Linked DNA regions of Homo sapiens. The protein of the gene in region 2 purifies or fractionates together with the protein of the main gene of each other region. This does not show direct contact. Each region holds a gene or a part of one and is shown on either strand. Other genes may lie near its edges.

Region 1 (16,756 bases), on a different chromosome or scaffold from region 2:
TTAGTATCCAGAATAATATAAAGAACTCTTAAAGCTCAACAATAACAAGACAAACAATGCAATTTAAAAATGGGCAAAGCACAAGGCACAGTTCACGCCTGTAATCCCAGCACTCTGGGAGGCCAAGGCAGGTGAACCACTTGAGCCCAGGAGTTTGAGACTAGCCTGGACAACAAGGCGAGACTCTGTCTCTACAAAAAAAATACAAAAATGTGGCTGGGCACAGTGGCTCATGCCAGTAGTCATAGCAACTAGGGAGGCCGAGGCAAGTGGATCCCTTGAGCCCAGGAGGCTGAGGCTGCAGTGAGCTATGATTGCGCCACTGCATTCCAGCCTGGATGAAAAACAAGACCCTAACTCAAAAAAAAAAGGTCAAGGATTTGAATAGACATTTTTCAAAAGAAGATATACAAATAGCCAACAGGCACACAAAAAGATGCTCAATATTATTGGTCATTATGAGATGAAAATCAAAACTACAATGAGATACTACTTCATGCCCACAAGATTGGCTATCAGGAAAACACAATAATAACTGTTGGAAAGGATGTGGAGAAATTCAAAGCCTTATCCATTGCTAGTGGAATATAAAATGGTGCAGACACCATAGAAAACAATTTGGCAGTTCCTCAGAACGTTAAACAGTTACTATATGACCCAGAAATTCCACTCCTAGTTATATCCTAGTTATATACCCAAAAGAACAACATGTCCACACAAAAACCTGAATCAGAATGTTCACAGTAGCATTATTCATAAGACAAAAACTGGTAAGAAACCAAACCTCCAAAGAATGAATGGATAAACAATGGATTATCCAGTCATTAAAGGAAATGAGGTACTGATACATACTATGACACAGATGAACCTTGAAAATATTACATTAAGTATTCAATAAGCCAGACACAAAAGGCCACATATTGTGTCATTTCATTTGCATGGAAGGTACAGAATAGACAAATCTATAGAGACAGACATAGATTAATGGTATTTGGAGTGGGAGGAGACAGGGTGGGAATGGAGAGTGACTGTTAATGAGTACTGGATTTCTTTCAGAAATAAAGAAAATGTTTTTAAAAAGAAGTCATACCTCCTATCCATCCAGACACATTTATTTCTACAACCAGCAGACAACAAGGTAGGAAAAATACAAAAAATAAAAAGGGTGCCAGGTACGATGGCTCACGCCTGTAATTCCAGCACTAAGGAAGGCCGAGGCAGGCGGATCACTTGAGGTCAGGAGTCTGAGACCAGCCTGGCCAATATGGTGAAATCCCATCTCTCCTAAAAATACAAAAATTAGCTGGGCGTGGTGGTGAGCACCTGCAATCCCAGCTACTAAGGAGGCTGAGGCAAGAGAATAGCTTGAACCCTGGAGGCAGAGGCTGCAGTAAGCCGAGATTGCGCCACTGCACTGCAGCCTCGGTGACAGAGCGAGACTCGGTCTCGAAAACAATAATAATAAAAATAAAAAAGGATGAAGCCAAGCTGGAGGAAAGAGGTCACCTAGAATTTACCACTGAACTTCCACGCACCAACCTTGAAATCCACTGATATTTTCAAATCGTAGTAACTTACATATCTGGAGTTTGGTGCTATTTGTTACCTCCTTTTCTTCCTTTACCATCTACAAATTCCTCTAATTTTTGGTTTTCAATTTTATGAATGACAGATACAAGCAGTTTATGGCCAATTAATTAATACTGAGAGTTCTCAGAATGCTCCAAGGAAAAATAATTTCTGTAAGGTATTTGGAAACTCAAGAAAAGCAGAATGGAATAATCTGAAAGAGAACCCTGGGAAAGCCCTGTTAAGAGAGAAAGAGTTCACTAATGCATTTTCAAATGGACTCAGTGGAAAGCAGCCAAAGGTTTAAAACAGGTTTGAAAATTGCTATAATGACCAGACTGACAGTCAACCAAACTTCTATAAGTCCTACTGGGAGAGTTCTAATGTTCTTTTGATTTCTCTGTATGAAAACACAACCTGCTTCTAGGAGAACCTTTATGTGAAAGAAACTGGATTCAGTTCCTAGAAGAAAAGCTGGGGAATTACTGTGACAGCCATCTCCACCATAACTACATCCAGGTTGGCCACTGCGGTGGTCACTTGTCACCCAGAAGAAAGTCCTGCACTAACTGTGTCTTCCAATGTAGTAAACCCAGGGAACCCAGGCCCAATGCATGAGCCTGAAAGAAACAACTCTGACGCAATGCTCACTCATCACTGGAGGGTCACAAGTACTTTTTAAAGTCAGTTTTATGATTAAACAAGTGTAAGAATTAGCATGTTCAATATAAGCAAAGAACGAACATATGTAGACCATCTACGTGTGTTGCTTTATTAAGTTAAAATTTTCAATAAAATAGAACAGCACCTTTTATCATATAAACAGATTTTAAGCACGATACTCAAAATTTTCAAGTTCTGCCCTTGAGCCTCACTGCTTTGCCATTTTAGGATGTATGCCCACTAGTTTCACAGAAACAATAAATAAGAAAAATGTTTGTTTCCATAGCATCCTATACTTCCCTATCAGAGTTTCACACTTTGTTGTAAATAGTTATTTGTCCATTACTCCCACAAAATTAACTTTAGTAGGAAATATGACCAATCCCCAACGTTTAGTATAGTAACTGGCAAATACTACACGTTCAGTAACTAGTTACCAAAAGAATAAATATGAAAATAATTAATTATGTATTACATAATCTCAATTTCAAACCCAGCATTGAAGACTGTCTGGTACTACCAACACCCTCTGAAATTGCCAGCAGTTTCACTCAGCAGTCCACTGACCCCTCACTCTCTCACAGAATGTTTAGCATCTTCTACACAGTAACACTGCAGCCTAAGTTCTGCAAATACCAAGTAAGTTAGGAAATAATACTGTTCCTGTCTGTCAATAACATTATTGCCTAAGTAGAAAATCCCAAAGAATCTACACACAAACACAATCCAAGAATAGATGAGAGTTCAACAAGGTCACAGTACCCAAGATCAACACAAACATACAAACACACATATGCACACATATTTTCAAATAAGACACATTCACAAAAGAGTCCCCTGGCATCAGTTATAAGTTCCTTCTCTCTTCCAAATAATGACCTCTCCCACCAACCCCAGGAATTAATGGGCTTGTGCTCTGACTCAAGTCACTTTTGAGACAGTTTCTTTTTTACAAAACTATTTCCACATTTGTCAAAGATGCAATGAAACATCTCTAATATATAATGTGACCCTATAAAAGTATATTCTAAGTCAGAATATAGGAAGGTATAACAAACGTACACATTAAAAGGGTGACTGGTTTGCACAAAGCTAAAAACTATAAAATCCCTACTAATACCTTGGTTACACCTTCAATACACTTTTAGCATTTTGTACATACATTTGTTTTACTTTCTTCCCTACTGATCACAAGCCTCAAAAAAAAGCACGTCTCGTGTCCAGCTCCGTGACAAGATTTACCCACTATTTTGGCTCACCTTAATACAATCTAGACAAATATATCATTAATATTGACAAGTACGTTTCTCATCCCTACTCAGTATCTGCACTTTTAATTTTCCGTCTGCCACTTATTTTTATGATATGGGGGGAGGGGGTTCAACTGCACAAACACACTGTTAAAGATAGCATTGCTAAAACTAAACAGCTGGTTGGTAGGCAGCACACCATGTTGCAGCCTGAAATGTCTGCCATCAGGAGATAATAAAAAGTTCTAATTTGGTCTATAAAAGGCAGTTTAAAGGTGTCAATTACACCATGAAATACATGCTGCCCACGAGTCAAACACATGAGAGATGAGACCCACCATACTTGAGAGCACTCTATAAAAAAATAGGGAGGCACAATATAAAAAAGTATTGTTATGGTGATGATTTTCAAGAAGGTTGAAAGTATCACCACCTAAGACTGGAATATTTCCACAGAAATAAGATTCCGCAGAAATCACTAAGACCTGGCTTGACATTTTAATGAATATCCTATAGGCAGTAAAAATTTAAAATATCCAAGTTTATAAATATTACATGTATCGCATTTGAGCTCTTCTGAGTTATGAAAAGTTAACTCCACTTTCATAAGATGGACAGAGATCTTAAATTTAGAATTAAGTGGAAAGCAAAATGGAACACAAGTTTTGATGCAGATAAATACAAAGAAATCCATTTAGGAAACAAACCTAACTGTACCTAAATGAAAACTCAGACCTCATAGAGATATACTCCAGAATTCATTCTAGATTAGCTATTTAAATAAAAACACTAAAATCAGAAAGCTAAAAGAGTATTAGGCATCACTAAGAAGGCTGGTGGGGGGGGAAATCTATGATATACCACTCTTATAAAAGCCTTGATGCCTTAAAATACAAAATGAAACCAAGAAAAAACAGAAAAAAATGTAAAAGGGAGAACTATAACATTTAGAGTCAATTAACATTTATTGAGTGCTGAAGGCCTGTGTCAGCAATGTTCAAGATACTTTTCCCATGTTACCAATTTCTACACAGATTTAAGAAATTTAGAATGGGAATAAAGTAGATAAAGGATAAAAAGATCTAAGACTGACTCTAGAAAAGTCACTGACAAGGTGACCATGGATATCCTTGCGAAGTACTAGAATAGAAAAACTTGAAACTTGAAAAGGTAAGGTTGGAATTTTTTAAAAATAAGGGACTATTTCATTTTGTCTGTAGTAAAATAAACTGCGGCCCATTGAAATTTGGGATTCTTGTGAGCTACTTCAGCACCTAGGACACAGCGGCTGCTTAGAGGAAAGAGAAAAGGCACAAATAGAACACATTCATTTTTTTCTGGAGGAGGTAAACACTGAAAACAAAATTTTTCCAGTATATTAGTAGCTGGTAAATCTGCAAAGTAAAAGAAAGTATGGTATTTGGTGTTCAACTCCTGACCTTTCAGAGAACAGTAGACTGACAGACACGTGTTCTGATCCAGAGAGATTATTAAAGACTGTGCATCAAATTAGAGGCACAGTGTGCTGCAAACCAAACATGAGGGGAAAAAAACGAAATAAAGTTAATATTTAGAGTGAAATTACATGGTACAGACTAATAGTGCTCCTGGAGCAAAGAACAGTATCAATGACTATCATAGAGAAGACAGGAAAGGCTTCAAAGTATATGAGGCAAGAATTGCAGAGAGAAGAAAAAAGATACAGGCACAAGATTTTAAACATATGTCTGTGACAGTCACATTTTAGAGAACCTATTCACTCCCTTCAAATTCCAAATATAAAGACTTAATCTCTAGGCATCTCATTTATCTCTGAAATGAATGGTGGAACCACATTAGGTTTCCTGTAGCATTGGAATCTGGATTTCATATTTAAAAATCAAACTCAGGCCAGGTGCAGTGGCTCACGCCTATAATCCCAGCACTCTGGGAGGCCGAGGTGGGTGGATCATTTGAGTTCAGGAGTTCAAGACCAGCCTGGCCAACATGGTGAAACCCCATCTCTACTAAAACTACAAAAATTAGCCAGGCGGTAGTGGCGCATGCCTGTAATCCCAGCTATTCAGGAGGCTGAGGCAGAAGAAACACTTGAACCCAGGAGGCAGAGATTGTGGTAAGCCGAGACACTGCAATCCAGTCTGGGCAACAGAATGAGACCCCCCCTCCCCCACCCCCCAAAAAAACAAAAACAAAAACAAAAAAAAATCAAACTCAGATTTCCACCTTCCCCTCTCCTAAACTTCCTATTTTCTACCTGGTTCCATAATGATCTACCCATCATTCATGTTTAAAACCTTGGATTAACCTTTGGTTTTTCCTGCCCTTTTCTCCTACTCTGCCAGACTCCATCTGTGCACCAACTCCTGGTCATTCCTTCCCTCAGAAATCCCTTTCATGTGTCCCTTTAAATTTCTACCACCAGTACCCAAAGACAGGTCCCTATTTCATCAAATCTAGGTTGACACTTAGCCTTAGCTAACGTTCTTGCCTCTAGTCAAACCTCACTCCCAACTCCAAACCAACCTAAATACTGCTGACAACTGGTCTCTGATCGTGTCCCTGTCCCCTCCCTATTCAAAATGTCCCCACCCCACCCCAAAGTAATTCAATATCTTCCCAGTCTACTACTTTCCCTGGTATCCATGGCTTTACAAAACCTGATTCCAATTTAATTTTAATGCTCTTATCGCCTTTCCCCTGCAATCTGGTCCTTCACCTCTCACTCCTCTACACCTTTGTTCTTGCCATCCTCCCCTCCAGGCACTCCATCTGCTCTTTCTGCTATCCATATTCAATCTCTGCTACTAAAACTTCCCATAGGTAAAAAGAGTCTCTCCTTGTCTCAAATCCCACCCCTTTTTGTCCACACCACTCATGTAGCATCTAGCCTAGATACATAACCGTGCATTACAGGGCACTGCTTTTGTTTGTGTGTTTGTTAAAAAATGCCAGTCTCATCTCCCTAACTGGACACAAAGTTCTTAGAGGATGAAAATGCTTGTTCTTTGTAACTCCTAGAAGATTTTGCTTAGTTCTACCTATAAATGGTGATTAATAACTACTGATGAGGTGATCTAAAGTTCAGTTGAAATAATGCCCATCTACTCCCATGCAGTTCTTTCTAAGGGCTCTCTCTCTTCACTGGTGTCTGTACTCACCAGAAGCACTGTTATACACTGTGTGCCGTGGTCTTGTTTTTTCCCCCTTTCAAATATGAGTCTGGTCTCTCCAACTAACTTCTAAGTTCCTTAAAGACTCTTTCTTATACCTTTTAAGCATTCTTTACAATGTTAAGCAGACCACTGGACACAGAGTGGTATTTAACATAAACCAGTAATAAAGACACCTAAATATTACCCAAAATGTCTCAATTAAACAGTGCTTGGGCCCGGCGTGGTGGCTCACGCCTATAATCCTAGCACTTTGGGAGGCCAAGGCGGGCAGATTACGAGGTCAAGAGATCGAGACCATCCTGGCCAACATGGTAAAATCTCGTCTCTACTAAAATACAAAAAAAAAATAGTCAGGCCTGGTGGCATGCGCCTGTAATCGCAGCTACTCGGGGGCTGAGGCAGGGGAATCGCTTGAACTTGGGAGGCAGAGGTTGCAGTGAGCCAAGATCATGCCACTGCACTCCAGCCTGGGTGACAGAGCGAGACTCAGCCTCAAAAAAAAAAAAGCTTAACACCACTTAAGGCACAGACTTTATAAATAACACGTCTACCCTGTTTTACAAATTTCAAAGCCAGTTCACGTCTATTATTTATTTCACTCTCATAACTCTGTGATGTCAGTTTACTGAAGGAAAAACTGGCTAAGCAAGATTGTAGGATCAGGCCGGGCGTGGTGGCTCATGCCTGTAATCCCAGCACTTTGGGAGGCTGAGACGGGTGGATTACTTGAGCCCAGGAGTTCAAGATCCGCCTAGCCAACATAGTGAAACTCCGTCACTACTAAAAATACAAAAATTAGCCATGCATTGTGCACACCTGTAATCCCAGCTACTTGGGAGCACAAGAATCGCTTGAACCCTGGAGGCAGAGGTTGCAGTGAGCTGAGATCACACACCACTGCACTCCAGCCTAGGTGACAGAGTGAGACTCTGTCTCCAAAAAAAAAAAAAAAGATTGTAGAACCAGTAAATTGGCAGTGCAAGGATTCAAACCCAGACCTCCTGGGCCCAGGGTCAAAATTTTAGGTACTATTCCACAAATACAGATTCATCTTCTCAATTAGCCTCCAAGTTCCTGGAGGACCAGGGCCATGAATAATGTTTCTTTTAAAAGATTCTCTCCTCATCTCCTCCCAAATGTCTTCATGTATCAATAAGATGAATTAAACCTATATGAATTCTGCAGATACAACAAACTCATCATAAATAACACACAGCCTGACACTACATTGTGCCCCCATAACAGACGAAATCACCATCCAGGCCTCCATCTTAAGTGGAGAAAGACTTGGTAATATAAGCCTATGGCCTCTCCAAGCGACATTCCCAAACAACCATTTTGAGCTCAGCCACACAATCACCACACCCATATAAGGTGAAAGCATACTGTATTTCTCAAAATCCTCGAGTCCTGCCAGACAGTCTAGTCTTTGTTCTCTGAAGGGTTGAGTTAACATCTAATCTAAAGAGAATGGCCAGAAGTGTCTGCTACTCTCAGAGCTTTCAAGGAAACGTCCAGTTAGAGAGCATCATCTCCTGGAAGTACCACGGGTCTCCAAGTACACATAGCTCAGAGCCAGGGCCCTCCACAATTTTCTCCCTAAACTGCATTTTTGGATCATTTTTAAAGATTTTGGAAGCCTTACAGATGAAGAAGCAGGGCCCTAAATAAAAATAAGTTAGTTTTAATATTCCAAGTGAACAGTTTGCTAAAACACCATTTTCATCATCCTAAAGACTAAGAGACTAAGACATGAAAACAACAGAAACTTCTCTATTAGCTCTAGTATGACAGTATCACAGAAGTGTTGGCAAGTTTCTCCTTACCAATGTTATTATCCAGAGTTAGAAACTACTTTAGAAATAAAATAACTTTAGGAAAATTACTTTACTATGTCAAGCATTAAAGTAATTTCAAAAAAGTTCTAGAGGAACATGAACCAAGTTGTATTCTCTAGTCTATAGATTAAGTCATACTAACAACTCACTACTTGAATTATATGAGCATTATAGTTAGGAGGCCAGGCAAAAGCTGAGAAGGCGAGGCTAGTCAGGAAAACATCTCAGAGAATGTTACTGATATAACATGTAGCTGTTGCACTGTAATAGACATATATTACTCTGTCTGGGTTTAAGTGTTCCTTTCTAGAACTGTCTCTTTACCTGATGAACAGTGTATTATAAGGCCATATACCTCCTGAGGGGGTGAGCACAGCTCAAGGTGGCCAGAAGACCTCACTCCCTGGTCCCAGTTACTGATTCAGGGAAAGGATCCATAACGGAATAATAAAGGTACTCCCTGGAGTATCTCCAACAAAATGGCCATGTTCCTGTCTTTTGAGCTCCATTGGTCATCTCTACCCCATGTGAAGAAAACTACCCTGAAAATAAAGCCAACAGTTGACAGAAGAGAACAAGATCAGTCCTGATGACATGCCTGGTGCCCCTGGAGCCAGCCTAGCCCTAACCTCAGCCTATTTATACATCAACAAATTCCATTTTAATGAACACTATTATGTCACCTGCCAGTCTAAATGAATACGGTGCCAAATAAAAAAGAATTAATTATCTCCAGAGTACGTCTGGAAAAAGAATGGCTAACAAAGTTAAATCTACTTCTAAACCCAACTGGAAACACCAATATACTGACTTTTTATTCTTACCACCTAAAATGGCCTAAATAACTTGAGAACCAGTCTGTTCTTCTCTTAGAATGTTTGAACAATGTCCTCCCAAACTTTTATTTATGACCTACTGATATACTATTTTCCAGACTAGATGTTAAAAACAGATATCAAATTGTATTCAAAACAAAGTCACTATTCTCTCAAGAGTGTCTTGTTAGTATTTAGCAAAAGTCTGGGTAACAAATGGGCAACCTGGCTATGAGGCCTACTCCATGCACACCAAAGAATAAGGCTAAAAAGGTAAACAAGCTACAAGTCTACCAAGCCCCGATATAATACATTTACTTTCATTCAAAACAATATATTCAACACTGGTCGGCTCTGAAAAAGCACAGATCATTCATATATACAAATAAGCATACTTTTCAACACATGTGTTTAATATACACAACCCAAATTCTAGATTGGAAGATTATACCTAACATGCGACCCTCAACCTCTGGTTTTTGTGTACTGATGCAATATCATACCACAGCAATGAGTTAAAAATGTGACCTCCACAAGTTTCTTTTTTTGTTTTTCATGTTTTACTTGCCTACTTACCTTCTCATTTGTTACCTTCACATTTTTAAAAAGAAAGCAGTTCTCCAACTGGTAACCAAAGTTTCAACAGTTTCTTTGATTCACCAAAGAGATAAGGGTAGGAGTTATGGTTTACATGAGTTTTACTACTAGAAGTCACAACATACACACACACCAAAGGAGTTTTAGGTGCTAATACAGTATATGTTGATCACTCCCACAGATGAAGACATCTTTACCAACTTGCAAAGTGAGATAACACTAAGCCTTAATCATAGTAAATGGAAATACATATCTGATGCGTTAAAGAAAAAAGGAAAAGTGACAAATCGTCATTTCACTGGATTCTTTTAAAATTTTTTCTGGAGGTCGGGCGCAGTGGCTCACGCCTGTAATCCCTGCAGTTTGGAAGGCCGAGGCGCGTGGACTGCTTGAGGTCAGGTGTTCAAGACCAGCCTGACCCACATGTTGAAACCCCGTCTCTACTAAAAATACAAAAATTAGCCAGGCATGGTGGCAGGTGGTGCCTGTAATCCCAGCTACTCAGGAGGCTGAGGCAGGAGAATTGCCTGAAGCCAGGAGGCGGAGGTTGCAGTGAGCTAAGATCGCACCACTGCACTCCAGCCTGGGTGACAGAGGGAGGCTGTCTCAAAAAACAACAAAAAAATTTTTTTTCTGGAGACTGGCATTTATGTCTGTGAAGTGGGCAACCAGGTGGTCCAGGAACAAGAGTAGAAAGATTTTTCAATGGGTGTCCTTTTTTATCATTTGAGTTTATACCATTTGAATGTACTATTCACTGGGTTATCTTTTTCATTGTTTGAATGGATACCATTTGAATGTATGACTTACTAAAAATTAATAAATAAATTTTAAATTTAGAAAATTCCTTGAAAGTCACTTTCAGAAACCACATTAGAACTCCGTTAGTCTAAAAATAATCAGAAAAGAATACTGCATGTCCTTTACTCTTACAAAAACTGCAATTTTCCCAAGTATACTTTTAAATGTGTCCTGAAACCATTACCAACTGTTTCTGCCTAATTTTCTTTCACAAAGTATGAGTGCAGAATACCAGCAAAACATGATAAATAGTTCTTTTCTGTTTTTCCCTTCCACCACAGAGGTGCTAATGGGAAACAATATAAATTTGCCAATAGGAAAAAAATGCTAAAAGGCATATACTCACAAATCAAATCACTAAAAGTTAACCATACAGTAGTTAACCCTGTTAAGCCAGGGTTATCCAAAGCACCGCTCCCATACCACTGATGCGAATGGTAATTTTAGCTAGTATGTAAACTAATATTTTAATTGTTATGAATTTATTTTAACATGTAGTTTATTATACCTAATACCTACATACCACATGTAGGACTACACAAATATCACTGCCTAAGATAAATCTACTTAAGTAAAATCGTGAATCCATCTGAAAAATAAGAGTGCACATGTGTATGAGTGAAGTTTTAGAAGCACCAGTGCACTATACAAATTAGATCGAGGCACACTGGGAATGACCACCAGCCTACATTAACCACAATGAACTTAGACCAAACTTCGTGCTCACAGGGAAACTCTCACTGAAAGGCTGGCACAACTAAATGACAGAAGCTGTGATCTCTATTCCTCTTACCTTGGACACCTCACTGCAGGCTCTGGATCACTCCCCACCCTCCTATCTACCACCCTAAGGTTTCTAATTCCAAAGGCATGAAGAGAAGTCTAGAGTCAGTCTCCAGGGAGAGGAATGTCTTGGCCTCGGCAGAGCTCTTCAGTATTCTCCCTGGTTCTTATTGCCTCTTCATGTTTCTATTACACCTATGTTGTCCCTGAACCACCAATATTCCCTAACTGTCTATGGCACCAAGTCGAAGCCTGCACTTCCCTCTCAGAGCCTTATATTCCATTATTGTTCTCTGCTGCAGGCCTGATACCAGTCCAACCCCATTTAAAAGAAAAAAAAAAAAAGATATTCCTGTTGTCAGGCTGACGGATTTGGCCAGAGGTGGATTAAATGGCAGAGCACAAACCAATTCACCAGGTATGAGAGACCAGCCCATACTATCCTCATTTCCCCAAGTGTATCTGCATTAAGAAACTTGCATTTTAAAAAAGATTAACGAGAGAAATTTTATGTAAAAGAATTTCAAGCTACTTAAAGGTGATTTAGACCACCTGAGAAATTTTAGGGCTCACTGCAGGACTATCTCCCAGCCAGCAATCAGGCAGTATTTACAATCTGGAATAAGGGTGCTGAGACTAGAAAAGGGTTGTCAATGGGCTTACTAACTAAACTCTTATTTATGTATGATCAGTTTCCATCACAAACTATCCTAACAGCTCATTTAGTATATAGCTGTCTGCTCACAACTTCAGAGATGAAAAAAAAATTTTAACATAAAACATTCATCCTCAGAAACTGAACCAATCCCTTTAGGTTGGCTAAAGGATGCTTCTGCAACAGTCATTCACCAGTATGATGCAATGATGTGTTCTATATAGTCCTCAAAAATTCTGTTTTATTCATACCAGATTCTTGCAAGTATTACCACAAGTAATCTCAGAGAATGAGGTCCAAAGTCCTGACAGAGGGGTCCCAATTAGAGCCTCTCAGGTTATCAGAATCATTTGCCCAGACAGGTATATTCAGAAGCCCAAAAATCTTCCCTTTAAACTTGAAAATAGAGTTCCAAACTCAGTTTTCAGTAAAATACCTTTGAGAAGGGCATATTTAAGTTTCAATGTAATATCTACCACATCACCTGCCGAGAACTTTAATTTAGAAATCATCTGTTTTCAAAAATACCATAGCCCAGATGCCAAAGCATGATGTTTATCTTTACACAAAAAAACACCAAAAGAAGAAAGATTTTATTTGGGAAACTAGACCTGGCACTTGTGGTATTTATTTTCTTTCATGTTTTATAACTACCTTTAGTCACTTAATCCTATTATTGAAGAATTAAAGGAAATCAAAGAGATACCAATATAAGACTAGCAATTTGGTAGACAAGAGGGAAAAAATTAGGAGGCTGAAAAGGGAACACACAAACTCACCAACTCAGACTGTTTTTAACAGCATAGCATACTGTGTGGCCAATACCCCTCAAACCATAAATTCTGAGAAAAGTTCCCTAGTACCCAGTGGAGAGTCAAAAACAAATTCCTGCCTCAGCAATTTCTCACCATCATTTTATCCATCTGAGCCTGGCCCTAAATTTTCTAAAACAAAGCTCACAATCACATCCCCCTTCAACTTACATCCTCTCTCATGGAAGAAAGGTACTTTCTGTTCCATCATTTTCCTCTCAAACTCTGCCTATGACCTGGTCCCTAAAAACGAAATGTTCCTTCCACCTCTCCAAGTCTAGGCCCTTCATTCTCTTCCTCCACTGGTTCCTTGGCAGGGCCGGGAGCACAGAGGGAATACCTCCCACCGCTGTACTGGATTTCCCACACCTCGGTTCACATCGAATTTTTCTTCTTAACCCCCAGTAATCTGGCTTGTCTTAGCAATTCTATGAAACTGCAAGCACAGAGGGTTACTGACTCCCAATAGCCAAATAAAAGCTGACCAATCTCTCCTTTTCTAAGTCCTCGCCCTTTTCGATTTCTGCTGGCTCTATCTAGCCTTGGCTCTCCACTCGCCAAGGAAAATTCAAGACTGTGGTTAGACTCTAGTCTTTCTTCTGTGCAATCTAAGTGATCCCCTCCACTGTCCTCCTAGAAATGACATCAGAAAACAATCTTAGACCTATGCATCTCCAGCCACCAGTAAATAGGAAAGCCCTCGATTCTATCTTCATTAAGCCCTTCAACCTTACTTCACATGTCCAAAACCAAATTCAAAGTCTTCCCAGGATTCCTGTCCCATTCCACCTTCACTTCCCTGTATCTACCAACTATATCATCATCGCCACGTCAGTCAAATTTCCCTTCACAGGCAGCCACCAAGGTCTGCTCGTTTTTCCATACTAGTATTGCAACTCCTATGAGAATTAATACGGTTTTTCCATATTAAAATCTCATCCACTATGACTGCAGGTTTGCTTCCTTCCTGGAGTTCAAAAATGACTGCAGTGTCCAGAATGAGAAGCTGCTGTAAGACTCCTTTCCCATGGACCAGCACCCATCCTCAACTGAAACGCAGTCTGGGAAAGTGTGAAAAAATGAAGGAGAAGGAGAGAGACACTCAGCTAACGCCACTGCCCTCATCTCACCTGCCACAAATAATCTGCATCTTCCCCCAGCTACCAAACCGTCCTTCACATAAATTTCTGTTCAGCCCACAAGCTGAAAAGCCCCCTCAGCCTCTTATTAAAGACCCATTAAATAAGTCCTTCACTTCTTGATCAAAAGGAATCATCGCTGTGACTTCTAAAGTGTAAGAAAACCAAACCTTTAAAAGTACCTGTCCTCAGGGCTTGGGGCAGTAAAAAAAAAAACAATCTAGGTGAAACACCTTCTATAGGAAAATTTATTTTTTTTGAACGAACTTAACCAGGCAAAGCAAGTAACTAGCAACATGTGCACAATTTACTTGGGCAAATGTCGCCCGTTCCTCCTCGGTGTCATCAGAAGGTACACTGGGAGAACAGAAGGGTTGAATTGAGCTGGTTTCCAAGGAACCATGTCAGAGCCGCTGCGGAGTTAAGAGCTGCGTCCACACAGCAGCCAAATCATGAAGTTGCAGGAGCGGCTGTTGTTAACCCACAGCTAAGAATAACGCTCGACTTTCCAAAATAAAACGAAGAAACGAAGTCCCCTGGCCAAGGATTCGGGGCGGCACAGAGGGGAAACGGAGCTTCCTGCACTGCCCTCATCACTCAGAACCTGGGGTCCCAGGCGATTCAGTCACCGCCCACAGAACAGCGCCGCGGGCACCACGTGAGACTCCCGGGGCCGGCTGGGAGCGGGGGACGAGGGGCGCCCACTCGGGGGTCGGCAGTTTGCAGGTGCGATGGGCGGCCCCCTCACCCACGTTTATCCGGACTGGAGCCCGCCGCTCCCGGCTGGGTTTCCGGGTGGTTCGCGCTCCTTCTGAATTGGCAGCGAGGTCGCGGCAGGTTCGAGGTAAATCGGACGAAGAGGGGAAAAAGTCTCAGGGGTCTGGGGGCCTCCGCGCCTCAGGGGAGGCAAGGGCCGGGCCAGAGGCGCGAGGGTGGGTGAGGGATTCCCGCCGCGGGGCCGGGACCGGGGCTCGGGCAGTGGGCCATGCCCCGCGCGCCCACGCGGGCCGCCCTACCGTGGCTCTGCAGGATCTCGTGCTTGAGGCCGCCGGTGTAGTCGATGAGCTCCTCCAGGCCGCGCTCGCACAGCTGCCCGTAGCCTGAGAACTTGTGCAGCACCTTCTCCAGCTCGCGCTCCACCGTCACGCACTGATCCATGCCGGAGGCGGCGGCGCTCGGCTCCTCGGCGCCCAGGTGTCCGCAGCCGTTCGGCCCGGGCCCCACCGAGGCCGCGTCCTGCTCCTCGTTCCCCAAGCGGGCGGCGCGGGAGGCTGAGGCGGCCGAGGCGGCGGGCGCACTAGCCGCGGCGCCGGGGGAGCCCCGCGCAGCCGGAGCCCGCCTGCCCCATGGCGCCCTAGCCCCCCGGCGAGTCGCCGCTGCTCCCGTTCGCTCGCTGCACTCGGCTCCGCGTCCCCAGGCCCCGCTCGCGACGTTCGGGTGCCTGCGACGGCGCGGCCGATTGTTTTTGTTTTCACGGGAACCGACCGATGACCTGGTTCTCCCGGGCGGCACCAAGCGCCGCCGACTGGGGGGAGGGGGATGGCCACCCGGGCGAGGAAAGGAGGCGGCGCGGGCCGTACCAAGTACACCCTCGGGGTGGGGGGTGCGACCCGGCGAGAACGGGCGGAGGAACGCGACGGGCGCCCACACGCGCCGCCACTCTAATGGTGTGGGCCGTACCACACGGAAGGCGTGCGAGGGAGAGGGCGAGGGTGGAGCGAGGCCCCAATTGGCCTGAGGAGCTAAATAGGGAACTTTGGAGACAGCCCCAGCGCTCGGAGAGCGCAACAACTACGCGCTCCATAAACAAGGAGGCGGAAACCGGCCCTCACCACTCCGCCCAGAAGCGGGGAACCCCAACCAATGGGCGCGGGGAGTGGTAAGAAGCCAATCCCTGGCCGAGGCGTAAGCCTTCAGCCAATCCGGGCTGAGGGGCCAAACCAACGGGCTCGCTGTTGGAGGGGGTGACTTGGAGAGCGTACCGAGAAACGAGTAGTTTATGGAAAGCCTTGGGGGAAAACTAGACAAAAATACAAAAGGCTGTTTTCCATAGGACGTCGCCCTGATCCCAATTTATTTCGTCTCCTCATCGATCTTAAGGGAAAGGGGTACCGTCATTCCGAACTTTTGGGCGACGGATCCATCTCCCGGGAATGAAAAACCAAGCCAGGCCGCCCGGGGGCTGGTTCTGCGTCGGCGGGGGGTCCCTAATGGGAATTAAAGGCGGGGGTGATTGGGCCCGGGTGAGGGGAGCCGCTTGCTGCTCGCGAAAGGCCCGCGCCGGCTGTCAGCGCTGCCCCGGGCTTGCGACACCCAGGAGGTCATGTCCCCATCCCCCGCGGACCGTGGCCCTTTGGCCCCTTGGCCTGGAACCTCTCCTGACGGTGGCCTCGCCCCAGAGCCATGTGCCGGGCAGCTTAGCCGGGTGGAAAGAACACGCGCTGGAGAGCCGGGCAGCCTGGCCCTTGCTCCCTAGGAAGCCTTATGCTATCGGATCGGATCGGCTTTACCCCCTCGGGTAAATCCTTCCCATCGCTTGCTATGGCGTCTGCAGCCTTGGCCTAGACCTCCTTGATCAGCATCGGCTGCACTACCTTTGCATTTCTTCAGGAGCCCAGCTAGTTCGTGCCTCAGGGCCTCTGCACTTGCCCTTTCCTTGGC
Region 2 (16,756 bases):
TGTAAATTTTTAAAAACTAAAAGCATAAGCAAGTGGTATTTGAATAACAGAGTGCTTTGGATTTTCATTTCACTGCCCTTTTGGATTTTCATATGTAACCTTTTGGTTACACATGAATCTGTATTTGTAACAACGACCCCAACCACAACCAAGCAAGCACCGCCCACCTCCTCACCTTGATGGTCTGTATTGCCCCGGATCCTCTTAGGTCTCGCAGGCTGTCTATGGCTTGCTCTGGTGATATTGTGTCAGACAGGTATAGTAGGAGACAAGCAGCTACTAATGGAACATGACAGAAAAATAATATGTTATTAAATAACTAGTGACAGGGTACAGCATTTTATATTTAATAAGACTTCTGTTGATACAGAAGACTGGTGTAATTGTTCCAAATGAATTAAAAGACTGAGACTTTTAGTGTGTGTTTTTGACAGTTAAATTATGATCTTAAATGACCGTATGGTTGAATTAGAGTTTAACACTGGCTTCATTCTTTCATCCATTTAAAGTGTTCATCCATTCAGTGATTTAGTATATTTACAGATATGTGCAACCATCACCACAGTCAATTTTAAAGCACTTCATCACCTCAGAAAGAAGTGTACCCTTTTGCTGTCATCCTCTATTCCCCATCAACCCCTGCCATAGGCAACCACTAGTGTACTTTGTCTCTGTAGATCTGCCTATTCTGAGCAATCACATAAACGGAAACATACAATATTTTTTTGTGTGTGTCTGACTTCTCTTAGCATAATGTGTTCAGGGTTCATACATATTGTAGCATATGTCTGTATTTAATTCCTTTTTATGATCAAATAATATTCCATTGTATAGATATGCCACATTGTGTTTATCTGTTCGTCAACTGATGGACATTTAGGCTGTTTCCATTTTTTGGCTATTATGATTAATGCTGCTATAAACATTTGTATACAAGTCTTTGGGTATATACTTTGGAGTGAAATTGCTGGGTCATATGTTAATGTTTACTTGTTTGAAGAACTACTGCTAGACTATTTTCCAAAGCCGCTGCACCATTTTACATTCCCACCAACAGTGTATGAGGGTTCGAATTTCTCTACATCCTTGCCAATACTTGTTATTTTTCATGTTTTTATAATACCCTTCCTAATTGGTGTCAAGTGGTATCCACTGTGGTTCTGATTTGCATTTCCTGATGACTGATGATGTTGAGCATCTTCTCATGTGCTTACTGACTATATGTGTATCTTGCATGTAGAAAGGTTTATTCGGATACTTTGCCCATTTTTCAGTTATGTTGTTTGTTTATTATTATTATTTTTTCTTTTGAGAGAGACGATCTCACTTTGTCATCTAGGCTGGAGTGCAGTGGTGTAAACTCGGTTCACTGGTGCCTTGACCTCCTGGGCCCAGGCAGTCCTCCAGCCTCAGTCCCACAAGGAGCTGGGACTACAGGCATGCACCACTATGCCTGGCTAATTTTTGTATTTCTTGTAGAGATGGGGTTTCACCATGTTGCTCATGCTGTTCTCAAACTCCTAAACTCAGGTGATCTTTCTGCCTTGGCCTCCCAAAGTGCTGAGATTACAGGCATGAGCCACGACGCCCGGCCTATCTTTATTACTGAGTTGTAAGAGTTCTTTTTATATTCTGGATACAAATCCCTTATCAAATATATAGATTGCAAATATTTTTTCCCATTCTATGGGTAGTCTTGTCATTTTGATAGTATTCTTTGAAACACAAAAGCTTTCAATTTTGATATCATCCAACACTAAAAAAATAACTACTACTCCAGTGTGGCATTTCACGAACTCTTTTTTGTTTTTCTTAGTACATTAAAACATTTTTTAAATTAACATATAGTAATTAACTTTGGTATTCATAAATAGTTACCCATGGAAACTATTTGGAAGTTACTCTATTATAACACCTCCACAGGAAGAACATCAAAAAATGTTAAAAAATAAGAATGCAGGTGTTAAGACTTGTAAATGATGTTTTGCCAGAATCCTCCAGAACAATGCTGAAAATACCTCCCACTCCCACCCAAGCTTTCCAGGGAACACCATGTTTAGGGCCTTAAGTAATCCTTTGAGTCTTAGCAAACTTATATTTTGCTTGGTTCCATTTTAATACAAAATGAACATATGGTCTGGAAACAGAAGTTTGTCTATTTGGCGGTTAAAAAAATAATAGAAATATATTTCTTACCAAGACAAGATCTCCCAAGTCCTCCATAGCAGCTGAAAGGGAAATACAGTTTTGAAGTTTGTACATTTCATTCCATCCCTAGTTACAACTAAAGACTTGCTCTTTCTGCCTTCTATTTACAACTCTAATGCCTAGCACAGTGCCTTGCACACGAAGATTAATAAATATTTTTGATTTAATCAACTGAGAGCAAGGTGTGCTTATTTCTTTGTTGGGAGGAATTCTGAACACCTCTAAGCATCAAGATAGGCAGAGTCTTCTTATTGACCTCTTTAGGTTCCAAGATCCACATCTGAGAAATGGAGCATGTTACCAATAGATAGAAATCAGACTTTTACCAACTGTCACTTTGATTATTCCTCTGTCTAAACAAAATCTGAGTGGTTACTGCACAAATGCCATGTAGATAATAACCATTCATGTATCTAAAGGAGTCCAGAGATAGGGTATCACCGAAGTCTGGAGCATGGGCTCTGGAGCACCACTGCCTGGGCTTCAGTCCTGGCTCTGCCACTTATTAGATGTGTAAAGCTAAGCAAGTTATTTAATCTCTCTGGGACTCAGCCTTTTCACCTTTAAAATGGTGATAGCAATAGTATGTACATCAGAGTGAGGATTAAATGAGGCTCACAAATGAGTGAGCATTTGCCAAGGACTTAGAACACAGCTTTGTGCAGAGTAAGAAGTAAATGAACATTAGCTGCTGTTATCTAGCACTGTAAAGAAATTAGCAGTTTTGTATAACTGGATTTTCCAGAAAAATGGAGATTAATCCTCAGTAGCAAAACTATTCATTTAAGTCATTTTCAAAGATCCTAAAAAATGTATTACATGCTTCCTAATGTACTTAGAGGGTATACTGAGCCTAATTTAGTGTGGATGACTTATCGTTATGGACATCAATTACTGTATTGTATTGTATTGTATTGTAGGTAAAGCTGTAGATATATATTTTGCTTTAGGATGTGAAATAGAGGACTGAATAGGTATTGACCCCTAGTCTTACTCGTGAACTTGCTTTCCACAAAGTGTTCCAGACATAGAACTGTTTCAGAGATCTGGATCTACCATATAAAGGGAGAGGCTGGGCATGATGGCTCAGGCCTATAATCCCAGCACTTTGGGAGGCCAAGGTGGGAGGACTGCTTGAGTCCAGTAGTTTAAGACCAGCTTTGGCAATAAAGTGAGACCCTGTCTCTCCAAAAAAAAAAAAAAAAAAAAGCCTGGCACGGTGGCGCACACCTGAAGTCCTAGCTACTCGGGAGCCTGAGGTGGGAGGATCGCTTGAGCCCGGCAGTTCAAGGCTACAGTGAGCTATGACAGTGCCACTGCACTCCAGCCTGGGTGACAGAGAAGAGACAACTGCCTTATTAAAAAAAAAAAAAAAGATCAAGATAGAACACTTCAGTGTCTTTTTGCAAGATTAATACTATTTTATACCTTTTGCTATTTTCATCTTTTTTCTTCTATTTGATGAATTCCTACTTATCTTTTAAAACCTCAAATTTCATTTCCTAAAATGCCTTTGTGCTCCTACAGAAAGGATCATTTTCCTGTGTGCTGCCTCTCCTGTCTTATTGCAGTTAAATGGTAGTGTTAGTTATAGGTTCCTCGAAGGTGGGGACTGTGCCTCGTTTGGTAGTCTTGGCGTGTGGTACACGGTAGGTGTTACTGGTTGAATTATGTCCCCCCAAAAGACATGCTGAAGTCCTTATCCTGTACCTGTGAGTGGGACCTTATTCAGAATTTGAGTCTTTGCAGGTATATTCAAGTTAAGACGAATTAGAGCAGGCCCTCATCCTAGATGACTAGTGTCCTTACACAAGGACAACACCATGCAAAGACACAGACATCCGAGGAAGTGTGTGATGACAGAGGCAGACTGGAGGGATTCAGCTGCAAGCCAAGGCCTGCCATGGATTGATGGCCACCACCAGAAGCTAGGAAGAGGCATGGAAGGACTCTCCTCAGTCTCAGAGGGCATGGCTCTGCTCTCATCTTAATTTTGGACTTACATCCTCTAGAAATGGGAAAGAAGAAATTTCTGTTGTTTTCAGCTACCTGGTTTGTGGTACTTTGTTACAATAGCCCCAAGAAACTACAAAATACAGTAGGCAAGCAGTGTTGTTCACTAATTTTATAAAGGGCTGCAAATGTCCAGGCAGAACCAGTGAGACAGCACTGGTAGACAACAGGTCAGTGAAAAAGGTTTACCAGATCCTGTTGCTGAAGGATAAGCTCTATAGCTGTCTAGAAGTGTGGGTCCTCAAAGATGGCAGAATGGATAGAAAATAAACTAGTCACCGTAGGACACCTTCGAAAGCTCTAGGACAATGAAAAATGCCAGTTGTCAGATGCTTTATTTTATGGGAGACTGAAACATTCAGCATATGCAAAGTCACCCATCTACTGTCTATCCTGTTTGTACTCTGCACAAACATCAGAGCATTTGGGTTGCCAGAACCAGCTACAGTAGAATTTGTTAAGCTTCACTTCACTAAACAGAGCTAGTTTGATTTCTGGAAACTTTTCAGTAGAGGCTGCTTTCAAAAATTTATTTGAAAAAAAAAAAAAAGATCTCAAAATGGTTTGAAAAATAGGGCCCTATGTTGGAAAATATTTTTCCCCAGCTACATTTAACTATCTAATACTATTTTACCTATATGTATCAGAAACTTTCACATCATCAACTGGATCTATTTGAAATTTAGCTTTTATAATTAGTACTGGTTAAGTGACTATGCTTTTTCCATAGAGGAAGATGGGAAACAATAGGATGTAGAATGGCTTCTAGTTCTCTACTGCATATTCTGCAAACTATATTTCTCTGTATGTCAGAGTTCAGTTTGGCCACAAACAGGTGTGTGTCCCCAAAGACCCTCGTACTAGTTGGTTTGCCTTCAGAACTGACACTGTTGGCATGAGGCCCCTGGGCTATAGGTTTAAGAGGAGAAGTTGGCTGGGCTTGTCCTATGACTAGGTGCCCTGAGAACCCCATGGCTATTTGATATAATTTCTATACTTCTAGCTCAAAGCAATGTCCTTAAGGAACTTGGGGCTTTTGAGGTCGTAAACTATTTAATACCCTACCTTATTCGAGAAAGGATTAAGCAGGTTATTAGAATATGAAATATACATTATGCACGGCAAAGTCCAGTTTCCTCCCCATGGCTGGCTCTCTGTTGCTTTGTGTGTTTCACTTCCGGCAGAGCATCTCTTGTTTTTTATCCACATCGCCCCTTTGAATCTTTGCCATGCTACTATCTACTGCCCATTGCCACTCTCTCTGGCCTTCCTCCAAGCTGCTTTTCTTTCCTCCTCATTTTGTCCCCTTTCCTTAACCCATCTTCTTTTGTTTTAAACTTTCACACCAGCAGCTTGTGTTTTTATAGCCACTGACACACAATGAGAGGCCCTCTTTCAATCTGTTAGCAGTCATATCATCAAATGTAATTTTCAAGTCATATTTTTAGGATTGCTTATTGCTTAGAGGTAACTTTTTTGGTAGCTAATTTTGAAAAAATCGACTTTCTTTATTTTTTTTTTTCTAGATGGGGTCTCCCTGTCACCCAGGCTGGAGTGCAGTACTGTCACCTTGGCTCACTGCAACCTCTGTCTCCCAGGCTCAAGCAGTTCCCCCACCTCATCCTCCTGAGTAGCTGGGACTACAGGCACGTACCACCATGCCTGGCATGTTCTTTTGTATACTTTTTGCGGAGATGGGGTTTTGCCATGTTGCCCAGGCTGGTCTTGAACTCCTGAGCTCAAGTGAGCCACCCACCACAGTCTCCCAAAATGCTGGGATTACAGGCGCGAGCCACTGCACCTGGCCAAAAAATTGATTTTCTTGCTATTGAAAGCAACTAAGCAATTGAAAAGCTAATAAGTGAGGCAGTGATGGTGATGAGGGGAAAGGAGGGTCCCAAAATTGCAACTAAAGGTCTAAGACTAAAGGAAAGAAATAAAAAAGAAAAGCTTGTAACCTTGTTCTAACAATTTCCAAATCTACTCATTTATTGTCCCTACTCTTGAAAAGTAATAACAGCACGTATTTGACTACTTACCCTGTACCAGACATTGTGCCAGTGCTTTCCTAGTGCATTATTACCTTTTAATCCTTACAACAAACTATGAAGTAGGTGATAACTGAATAGGGCTACCATAATTCCAGAAATCATTTTGACTGAGACATTTCTCACATAGTGTATGGAGAAAAGAACGTACTGTATTAAGGTTTTTCGGTAATTTTTAAGGCAGGTTGTAAGCTCTTCCATTATTTCACAGCAGCTGGCTATGTCAGGAGTCCCTCCATCTGCGATTGGATGATGATGGGTGATAATTCCACATTGCTGGTAGAGATCCAGAAGGTTTGGGACTCTATATTTTGACAGTTCCCCTCTGGTGCAGAAAACAAATATGTCTTGTATACCACAGCTCTTTAGTTCTTCTGCCAATAGACCAGGATACACAGACACACACACATAGAAAACATCACACATTTAAATACCATCAAGAGGGAGAATATGAAATTAAATTTCTTAAGCCAAACTAATACCAAATGACAATCTATAAATCTGAAGTGCCTATTGATATGTCTGAATCAAAAGGGGTCTAGAATTAAACCTCATATTACAAGTCAAAATGCCTTTTACTGAATTTCAAAATAAGTCAATTGCTGTTCTTGCAAAAAATTTTTTTTTGCAATGAATACTGCTTTAAAATAACCCCCCCTCTTTTTTTTTTTTTTTTTTTTTGAGATGGAGTCTTGCTCTGTCACCAGGCCGGAGTGCAATGGCACGATCTCAGCTCACTGCAACCTCTGCCTCCCAGGTTCAAGTGATTCTCCTGCCTCAGCCTCTCAAGTAGCTGGGATTACAAGCATGTGTCACCACGCCCAGCTAATTTTGTATTTTTAGTAGAGACGGGGTTTCACCATGTTTGTCAGGCTGGTCTTGAACTCCCGACCTCAGTTGATCTGCCCGCCTCCGCCTCCCAAAGTGCTGGGATTACAGGCATGAGCCACCATGCCTGGCATAAAATAACTCTTAAAACACTTAAAATTGAGTAGCAAATATGGTTGATTTTGTGAGAAAAAGAAAAAAAGTGCTATCAATTAAGGTATGATAGATCTATGTTCAATTAAGGATGATAGCACTTTTTTTCTTTTTCTCACAAAATCAACCATGTCTGCTACTTCATCACTTAGCTGTTTGCTTGACTCTGAGTATTGTATATAAAATCTCCAGCATGGCCATGGTGTCAGAGGTGCTAGTATTCTCCCTCATATCTGCACTGTAACACATCCTTGTGTATTTAATTTTATAGACTAGGTCGCCAGTAAATAAAACATTACCTGTATTAAACTTCTGTGACCTAGCTATTCTCATTATAATGATATGAATACTATAGGCATTCTATACACTAGGACTTCTTTATGGCAATATTAACTATTGAGCATTTGGTTTAAAATAAATAACTGGATGATCTAAGTGCTCCCAACTCCAGCCCTCTCCCTGTCCCTTAAATCCAAGGACATGTAGCTATTTAAGTACAAAGTACCTTCTCATGAACTAATCCCTGAGATGTACAGTACTATACATCTATTTGCCTTTTGTACACATTTGGTAATTTTTATTATCCAGTGATTTTCCAACTTTCTGAGAAAGGGCTAAGAAAGTATCTCAGGAACTGCTGCAGGGAGATTCTAGGTCTCCAATCAAACATATTGACCTGTTTTATGTACTGGATTCCATTTAAGATTTCATTGCAGAAAAAAAAGTATTTTGAAAAAAATTGGAAACTGTTTTTATAGAAAATGCTAAATGAATATGACATTCCAAAATGTACAAGACTGACTTTGAACCAATGATTTAAATTACATATATTTTGCTTATGACCTAAATGTTCTCCAAATAGAAATTTCCTAGCATGGTGGGTGTGTCTAAAGCAGAAAAGTTTTATAAATACTATAAGGGTCAACTATCTATTACTGTCTTTAAGTCTTTTTTTGGTAGGTAAGGAATACTTTTTTTTTTTTTTTGAGGCAGGGTCTTGCTCTGCCACCAGGTTGGAGTGCAGTAATGCAATCTCAGCTCATTGCACTCCAGCCTGGATGACAGAGCAAGACCTTGTGATCTCAGCACCATCTCAGCTCACTGCAGCTTTGACCTCCTGGGCTCAAGTGATCCTCCCATCTCAGCCTCCCAAGTTGCTGGGACTACAAGCACGCGCCATCATGCCCAGTTAATTTTTGTATTTTTTGCAGAGACAGGGTTTTGCCTTGTTGCCCAGGCTGGTCTCGAACTCCTGAGCTCAAGCGATCAACCCGCCTCGGCCTACCAAAATGCTGGGATTACAGGTGTGAACCACTGCACCTGACCAGGAATAAATTTTTAAAAGTACATTAGCAAACTGATGTTCTAGAATAACCACGAAAAGTTTTTAAGATTCAGAAAATCTATACTAGTTAGAATCAAGCAATATATACATTTTAATTTGCCATACTATAAGGATATCGGTAGGACTAGTAGGTTTGAGACATTCCAGGCCAATCAGAATAAAATCTTTTGAAAATCCACATTTGTTAGTATCATGCAATATGTAAATTCCAAATTGGGGCAGATTATGAGGATTATTAGACTTGTGGCTATAATGGTATGAACATCCTTGAGCAGGCAACAACCAGTTCCCATTCTGTCTTTTCCATCTAGATGCTGGCTCTCAAAATTTTCCATCCAGGATTCACAATTTCACTGCTAACTTGGAGTTCCCAGCTCATGTTTAATTTCTACTACCACAGTCAAGTCTGCAAGGAACAGTAAAGACCTGGGGGGAGCAATATGTCAGTTTCCTATTTACATACTTTTTTTCATGCCAACTTCTACATTCTAACCTCAAATGTAGTTTATATGTATAATATAACTACAACAATCAGTGAAAAGCAACTCCATGGTTAGGTAAATGATGGTCTTCACAAATACCTCTTTACATATCAGAATAAGTCTATAGTTTGGAACTTCACACAATATTGAAAACTTATTTTTATATTAAAAAAAAACTGATTTGTTCTTTTTGACAGAGAGTTTTTCAATGCTATTCATTTAAAAAACCCATGAGTGTGGTTGCGTGATATTATACCTACCTGTATCTTTTTGGACATTTCTTCTAACATCTTTAAATTTACAACCTATAAGTAATAATAAAGCAAGTAAAAAAGTCAGTTTTTCGTCATATGTAACAGGTATGTTTAAACACTTATATAGCTACTTTATAAAGTCATTTCACGTAATCATTTATATGTTTCAATTATATTTTGAATATGAATTTCAATTTCTTATATTTCTAGGAATATAATTACAGGGATTCATCCTAAGCAAGGATTCTGTATTCTGTGTTTCTTCTGTAACAAGTACCTGGTTGTAGTCCTCAGCCTCATTTGTACTCCAGGCTTTAAGCTTTATTAAGATTGGCAAAGTACAAGTGTAGGGCTGTGACTGCAGATCTGGAAGGGCTGAAAGGTAGATCTATGTTCCTTTAACTATAGTCCACCATGAGGGCTTCGCAAAGTGTGTTCCCCAGTGCTGATGGTCTGTGAAATTTACTTATTGCCCAGTATAGAGAATGATGTGTTAGTTGACCAAATACTTGTTCTAAATATATTGTTGGCACGGATGTGGTGAAAAGGGAACACTTTTACACTGCTGGTGGAAATGTAAACTAGTACAACCACTATGGAAAACAGTGTGGAGATGCCTTAAAGAACTAAAAGTAGAACTACCATTTGACCAGCAATCCTACAACTAGGTATATACCCAGAGGAAAAGAAGTCATTATATGAAAAAGATACTTGCACACACATGTTTATAGCAACATAATTTCCAACTGCAAAAATGTAAAACCAGCCCAAATGCCCATCAATTAATGAGTAGATAAAGAAAATGTGGGATTCCCGGGCAAGATGGCTGAATAGGAACAGCTCTGGTCTGCAGCTCCCAGCAAGACCAATGCAGAAAGAAGACGGGTGATTTCTGCATTTCCAACTGAGTGGTACTTGGAATGCCAGCAAGACAGAACCATTCACTCCCCTGGAAAGAGGGCTGAAGCCAGGGAGCTGAGTGGTCTTGCTCTGTGGATCCCACCCCCAACGGAGCCCAACAAGCTAAGATCCACTGGCTTGAAATTCTCACTGCCAGCACAGCAGTCTGAAGTCAACCTGGGATGTTCCAGCTTGGTGGGGGGAGGGGCATCCACCATTATTGAGGCTTGAGTGGGCAGTTTTCCCCTCACAGTGTAAACAAAGCCAGTCGGAAGTTTGAACTGGGTGCGGAACCCACCACAGTGTGGAAAAGCCATGGTAGCCAGACTGCCTCTCTAGATTCCTCCACTCTGGGCAGGGCATCTCTGAAAGAAAGGCAGCAGTTCCAGTCAGGGGCTTATAGATAAACTCCCTTCTCCCTAGGAGAGAGCACCTGGCGGAAGGGATGGCTGTGGGCACAGCTTCAGCAGACTTAAACATTTCTGCCTGCTGGCTCCGAAGAGAGCAACAGATCTCCCAGCACAGTGCTCGAGCTTTGCTAAGGGACAGACTGCCTCCTCAAGTGGGTCCCTGAACCCCGCGCCTCCTAACGGGGAGACACCTCCCAGCAGGGGTCGACAGACACTTCGTACAGGAGAACTCCAGCTGGCATCCGGCAGGTGCCCCTCTGGGACGAAACTTCCAGAGGAAGGAGCAGGCAGCAATCTTTGCTGTTCTGCAGCCTCCACTGGTGATACCCAGGAAAACAGGGTCTGGAGTGGACCTCGAGCAAACTCCAGCAGACCTGCAGAAGAGGGGCCTGACTGTTACAAGGAAAACTAACAAACAGAAAGCAATAGCATCAACATCAACGGAAAGGACGCCCACGCAGAAACCCCCATTCAAAAGTCACCAACATCAAAGACCAAACGTAGATAAATCCGCGAAGATGAGGAAAAACCAGAGCAAAAAGGCTGAAAATTCCAAAAACCAGAATACCTCTTCTCCTCCAAAGGATCACAACTCCTCGCCAGCAAGGGAACAAAACTGGACAGAGAATGAGTTTGATGAACTGACAGAAGTAGGCTTCAGAAGGTGGGTAATAACAAACTCCTCCAAGTTAAAGGAGCATGTTCTAACCCAATGCAAGGAAACTAAGAAACTTGATAAAAGGTTAGAGGAACTGCTAACTATAATAACCAGTTTAGAGAAGAACATAAATGACCTGATGGAGCTGAAAAACACAGCAGGAGAACTTCGTGATGCATACACAAGTATCAATAGCTGAATCGATCAAGCAGAAGAAAGGATATCAGAGATTGGAGACCAACTTAATGAAATAAAGTGTGAAGACAAAATTAGAGAAAAAAGAATTAAAAGGAATGAACAAGGCCTCCAAAAATATGGGACAATGTGAATCAACCAAACCTATGTTTGACTGGTGTACCTGAAAGTGACGGGGAGAATGGAACCAAGTTGGAAAACACACTTCAGGATATTATCCAGGAGAACTTATCCAACCTAGAAAGACAGGCCAACATTCAAATTCAGGAAATATAGAGAACACCACAAAGATACTCCACGAGAAGAGCAACCCCAACACACATAATCATCAGATTCACCAAGATTGAAATGAAGGAAAAAAATGTAAAGAGCAGCCAGAGAGAAAGGCTGGGTTACCCACAAAAGGAAGCCCATCAGATTAACAGCATATCTCTCTGCAGAAACCCTACAAGCCAGAAGAGAGTGGGGGCCAATATTCAACATTCTTAAAGAAAATAATTTTCAACCCAGAATTTCATATCCAGCCAAACTAAGCTTCCTAAGTGAAGGAGAAATAAAATCCTTTACAGACAAGCACATGCTGAGGGATTTTGTCCCCACCAGGCCTGCCTTACAAGAGCTCCTGAAGGAAGCACTAAACCTGGAAAGGAACAACTGGTATGAGCCACTGCAAAAACATACAAAAATGCAAAGACCATCAACGCTATGAAGAAACTGCATCAACTAATGGGCAAAATAACCAGCTAGCATCATAATGACAGGATAAAATTCACACATAACAATATTGACCTTAAATGTAAATGGGCTAAATGCCCCAATTAAAAGACACAGACTGGCAAATTGGATAGAGTCAAGACCCATTGGTGTGCTGTATTCAGGAAACCCATCTCACGTGCAGAGACACACATAGGCTCAAAATAAAGGGATGGAGAAATATTTACCAAACAAATGGAATGCAAAAAAAAGCAAGGGTTGCAGTCCTAGTTTCTGATAAAACAGACTTTAAACCAACAAAGATAAAAAAAGAAAAAGAAGGGGATTACATAATGGTAAAGGGATCAATGCAAAAGAAGAGCTAACTATCCTAAATACATATGCACCCAACATAAAAGCACCCAGGTTCATAAAGCAAGTTCTTAGAGACCTACAAAGAGACTTAGACTCCCACACAATAATAGTGGGAGACTTTAACACCCCACTGTCAATATTAGACAGATCAGCGAGACAGAAAATTAACAAGGATATCCAGAACTTGAACTCAGCTCTGGACCAAGCAGACCTAATTGACATCTACAGAACTCTCCACCCCAAATCATCAGAATATACATTCTTCTCAGCACCACATCGCACTTATTCTAAAATTGACCACATAATTGGAAGCAAAATACTACTCAGCAAATGCAAAAGAACAGAAATCATAACAAACAGTCCCTCAGACCACAGTGCAATCAAATTAGAATTCAGGATTAAAAAACTCACTCAAAACTGCACAACTACATGGAAACTGAACAACCTGCCCCTGACTACTGGGTAAATTAAGGCAGAAAAAAAGAAGTTATTTGAAACCAATGAGAACAGAGACACAATGTACCAGAATCTGCAGTGTTTAGAGGGAAATTTATAGCACTAAATGCCCACATGAGAAAGCGGGAAAGATCTAAAATTGACACCCTAACATCACAATTGAAAGAACTAGAGAAGCAAGAGCAAACAAATTCAAAAGCTAGCAGAAGACAAGAAATAACTAAGATCAAGCCGGGTGCGGTGGCTCAGGCCTATAATCCCAGCACCTTGGGAGGCCAAGGCGGGTGGATGGATCATGAGGTCAGGAGATCGAGACCATCCTGGCTAACACGGTGAAACCCCCGTCTCTACTAAAAATACAAAAAAATTAGCTGGGTGTGGTGGTGGGTGCCTGTAGTCCCAGCTACTAGGGAGGCTGACGCAGGAGAATGGCATGAACCCGGGAGGCAGAGCTTGCAGTGAGCCGAGATTGTGCCATTGCACTGTAGCCTGGGCGACAGAGTGAGACTCTGTCTCAAGAAAAAAAAAAGAACTAACTAAGATCAGAGCAGAACTGAAGGAGATAGAGACATAAAAAGCCATTCAAAAAATCAATGAATCTAGGAGCTGGTTTTTTTGAAATGATTAACAAAATAGATAGACCACTAGCCAGACTAATAAAGAAGAAAAGAGAGAAGAATCAAATAGACACAATAAAAAATGATAAAGGGGATATCACCACTGATCCCACAGAAATACAAACTACCATCAGAGAATACTATAAACACCTCTACAAAAATAAACTAGAAATCTAGAAGAAATGGATAAATTCCTGGACACATACACCCTCCCAAGACTAAAGGGACTTCTTCCCTCCCAGGAAGAAGTCGAATCCGTGAATAGACCAATAACAAGTTCTGAAACTGAGGCAGTAATTAATAGCCTACCAACCAAAAAAAGCCCAGGACTAGATGGATTCACAGCTGAATTCTACCAGAGGTGCAAAGAGGAGCTGGTACCATTCCTTCTGAAACTATTCCAAACAATAGAAAAAGAGGGAATCCTCCCTAACTCATTTTATGAGGCCAGCATCATCCTGATACCAAAACCTGGCAGAGACATAACAAAAAGGAAAATTTCAGGTCAATATCCTTGATGAACATCGATGCGAAAATCCTCAGTAAAATACTGGCAAACTGAATCCAGCAGCACATTAAAAAGCTTATCCACCACGATCAAGTCAGCTTCATCCCTGGGACGCAAGGTTGGTTCAACATATGCAAATCATTAAATATAATCCATCACATAAACAGAATCAGTGACAAAAACCACATGATTATCTCAGATCTGGAAAAGGCCTTTGATAAAATTCAACACCCCTTCATGCTAAAAACACTCAATAAACTAGGTATTGATGGAACGTATCTGAAAATAATAAGAGCTATTTATGACAAACCCACAGCCAATATCATACTGAATGGGCAAAAGCTGGAAGCATTCCCTTTGAAAACCGTCATAAGACAAGAATGCCCTCTCTCACCACTCCTATTTAACAGAGTATTGGAAGTTCTGGCTAGGGGAATCAGGCAAGAGAAAGAAATAAAGAGTATTCAAATAGGAAGAGAGGAAGTCAAATTGTCTCTTTTTACAGATGACATGATTGTATATTTAGAAACCTCATTGTCTCAGCCCAAAGCTGATAAGCAACTTCAGCAAAGTCTCAGGATACAAAATCAATGTGCAAAAATCACAAGCATTCCTATACACCAATAACAGACAAACGGAGAGCCAAATCATGAGTGAACTCCCATTCACAATTGCTACAAAGAGAATAAAATACCTAGGAGTAAAACTTACAAGGTATGTGAAGGATTTCTTTAAGGAGAACTACAAACCACTGCTCAAGGAAATAAGAGAGGACACAAACAAATGGAAAAACATTCCATGCTCATGGATAGGAAGAATCAATATCATGAAAATGGCCATACTGCCCAAAGTAATTTATAGATTCAATGCTATCCCCATCAAGCTACCATTGACTTTCTTCACAGAATTAGAAAAAACTACTTTAAATTTCATATGGAACAAAAAAAGAGCCCATATAGCCAAGACAATCCTAAGTAAAAAGAACAACGCTGGAGGCATCACGCTACCTGACTTCAAACTATACTACAAGGCTATAGTAACAAAAACAGCATGGTACACATGCCAAAACAGATATATAGACCAATGGAACAGAACAGAGGCCTCAGAAATAACACCATACATCTATAACCATCTGATCTTTGACAAAACTGACAAAAACAAGCAATTAGGAAAGGATTCCCTATTTAATAAATGGTGTTGGGAAAACTGGCTAGCCATATGTAGAAAACTGAAAGTGGACCCCTTCCTTACACCTTACACACAAATTAACTTAGGATGGATTAAAGACTTAAACCTAAGACCTAAAACTCTAAAAACTGTAGAAGAAAACCTAGGCAATACCATTCAGGACATAGGCATGGGCAAAGACTTCATGACTAAAACACCAAAGGCGATTGCAACAAAAGCCAAAATTGACAAATGGGATTTAATTAAACTAAAGAGCTTCTGCACAGCAAAAGAAACTATCATCAGAGTGAATAGGCAACCTACAGAATGGGAGAAAATTTTTGCCGTCTATGCATCTGACAAAGGTCTAATATCCAGAATCTACAAGGAACTTAAACAAATTTACAAGAAAAAAACAAACATCCCCATCAAAAAGTGGGGTTGTAAAGTATAATAAAAAAAGAAAATGTGAGATATACATACACACACACACACACACACACACACGCACACACATGCCATGGAATACTACTCAGCCATGAAAAGGAACAAAATGGCATTCACAGCAACCCGGGTGGAACTGGAGACTATTATTCTTTTTTTTTTTTTTTTGAGACAGAGTCTCGCTCTGTTGCCAGGCTGGAGTGCAGTGGTGCGATCTCGGCTCACTGCAACCCCTGCCTCCTGTCAAAGCAATTCTCCTACCTCAGCCTCCCAAGTAGCTGGGACTATAGGCACGTGCCACCATGCCCAGCTAATTTTTGTATTTTTAGTAGAGACGGGGTTTCACCATGTTGTCCAGGATAGTCTCTATCTTCTGACTTCGTGATCTGCCGGCCTCGGCCTCCCAAAGTGCTGGGATTACGGGTGTGAGTGACTGCACCCGGTCACTGGAGACTATTATTCTAAGTGAAGTAACTCAGGAATGGAAAACCAAACATCATATGTTCTCACTCATAAACAGGAGGTAAACTTTGAGGACACAAAGGCATAAGAATGATACATTGGACTTCGGGGGCTGGTGGGGAACAGGTGGAAGGGGGATGAAGGATAAAAGACTTCACATTGGGTACATTGTATACTGCTCTGGTGATGGGTGCACCAAAATTTCAGAAATTGCCACTAAAGAACTTATTTATGTAACCAAACACCACCTGTCCCCCCAAAAGCTACTGCAATAAAAATATATTAAAAAATATATACATATTGATAGGAAGCCCATTATTGTGTTACCCACCTGGAAGAGCACATAAACCGAGAAACTGAGAACAATTCACTCGTGACAAAGATAGCCTGAAAAGAAGAAAAATTTTTCATGTTTAGTTAAGTTTTTAAAAAGTTATAAATGGAAATTCAGTTTAATCAATATGGGTGCTTGCCACCAAATAAAGTTGTGTTAAAGTTTTACAGTAGTCACAAAGTAAGAATTCACAGTTAAGTATCAAT

Evidence for each region.
Region 1: the proteins of CDKN3 (region 2) and RMND5A purify together in Homo sapiens (affinity purification with western blotting; 2 studies listed by BioGRID, with this or other methods). This does not show direct contact.

What each region holds. Positions count from the first base shown.
Region 1 is NC_000002.12:86,719,165-86,735,920, reverse strand, and holds the start of RMND5A (E3 ubiquitin-protein transferase RMND5A), read right to left. Parts: upstream 15,631-16,756; 5' UTR 15,254-15,630; coding exon 15,112-15,253; intron 14,940-15,111; exon of another isoform or gene 14,799-14,939; intron 1-14,798.
Region 2 is NC_000014.9:54,401,371-54,418,126, reverse strand, and holds part of CDKN3 (cyclin-dependent kinase inhibitor 3), read right to left. Parts: intron 16,604-16,756; coding exon 16,548-16,603; intron 9,383-16,547; coding exon 9,338-9,382; intron 6,644-9,337; coding exon 6,421-6,643; intron 2,229-6,420; coding exon 2,197-2,228; intron 280-2,196; coding exon 176-279; intron 1-175. UniProt on the Homo sapiens protein: May play a role in cell cycle regulation. Dual specificity CC phosphatase active toward substrates containing either phosphotyrosine or phosphoserine residues. Dephosphorylates CDK2 at 'Thr-160' in a cyclin-dependent manner.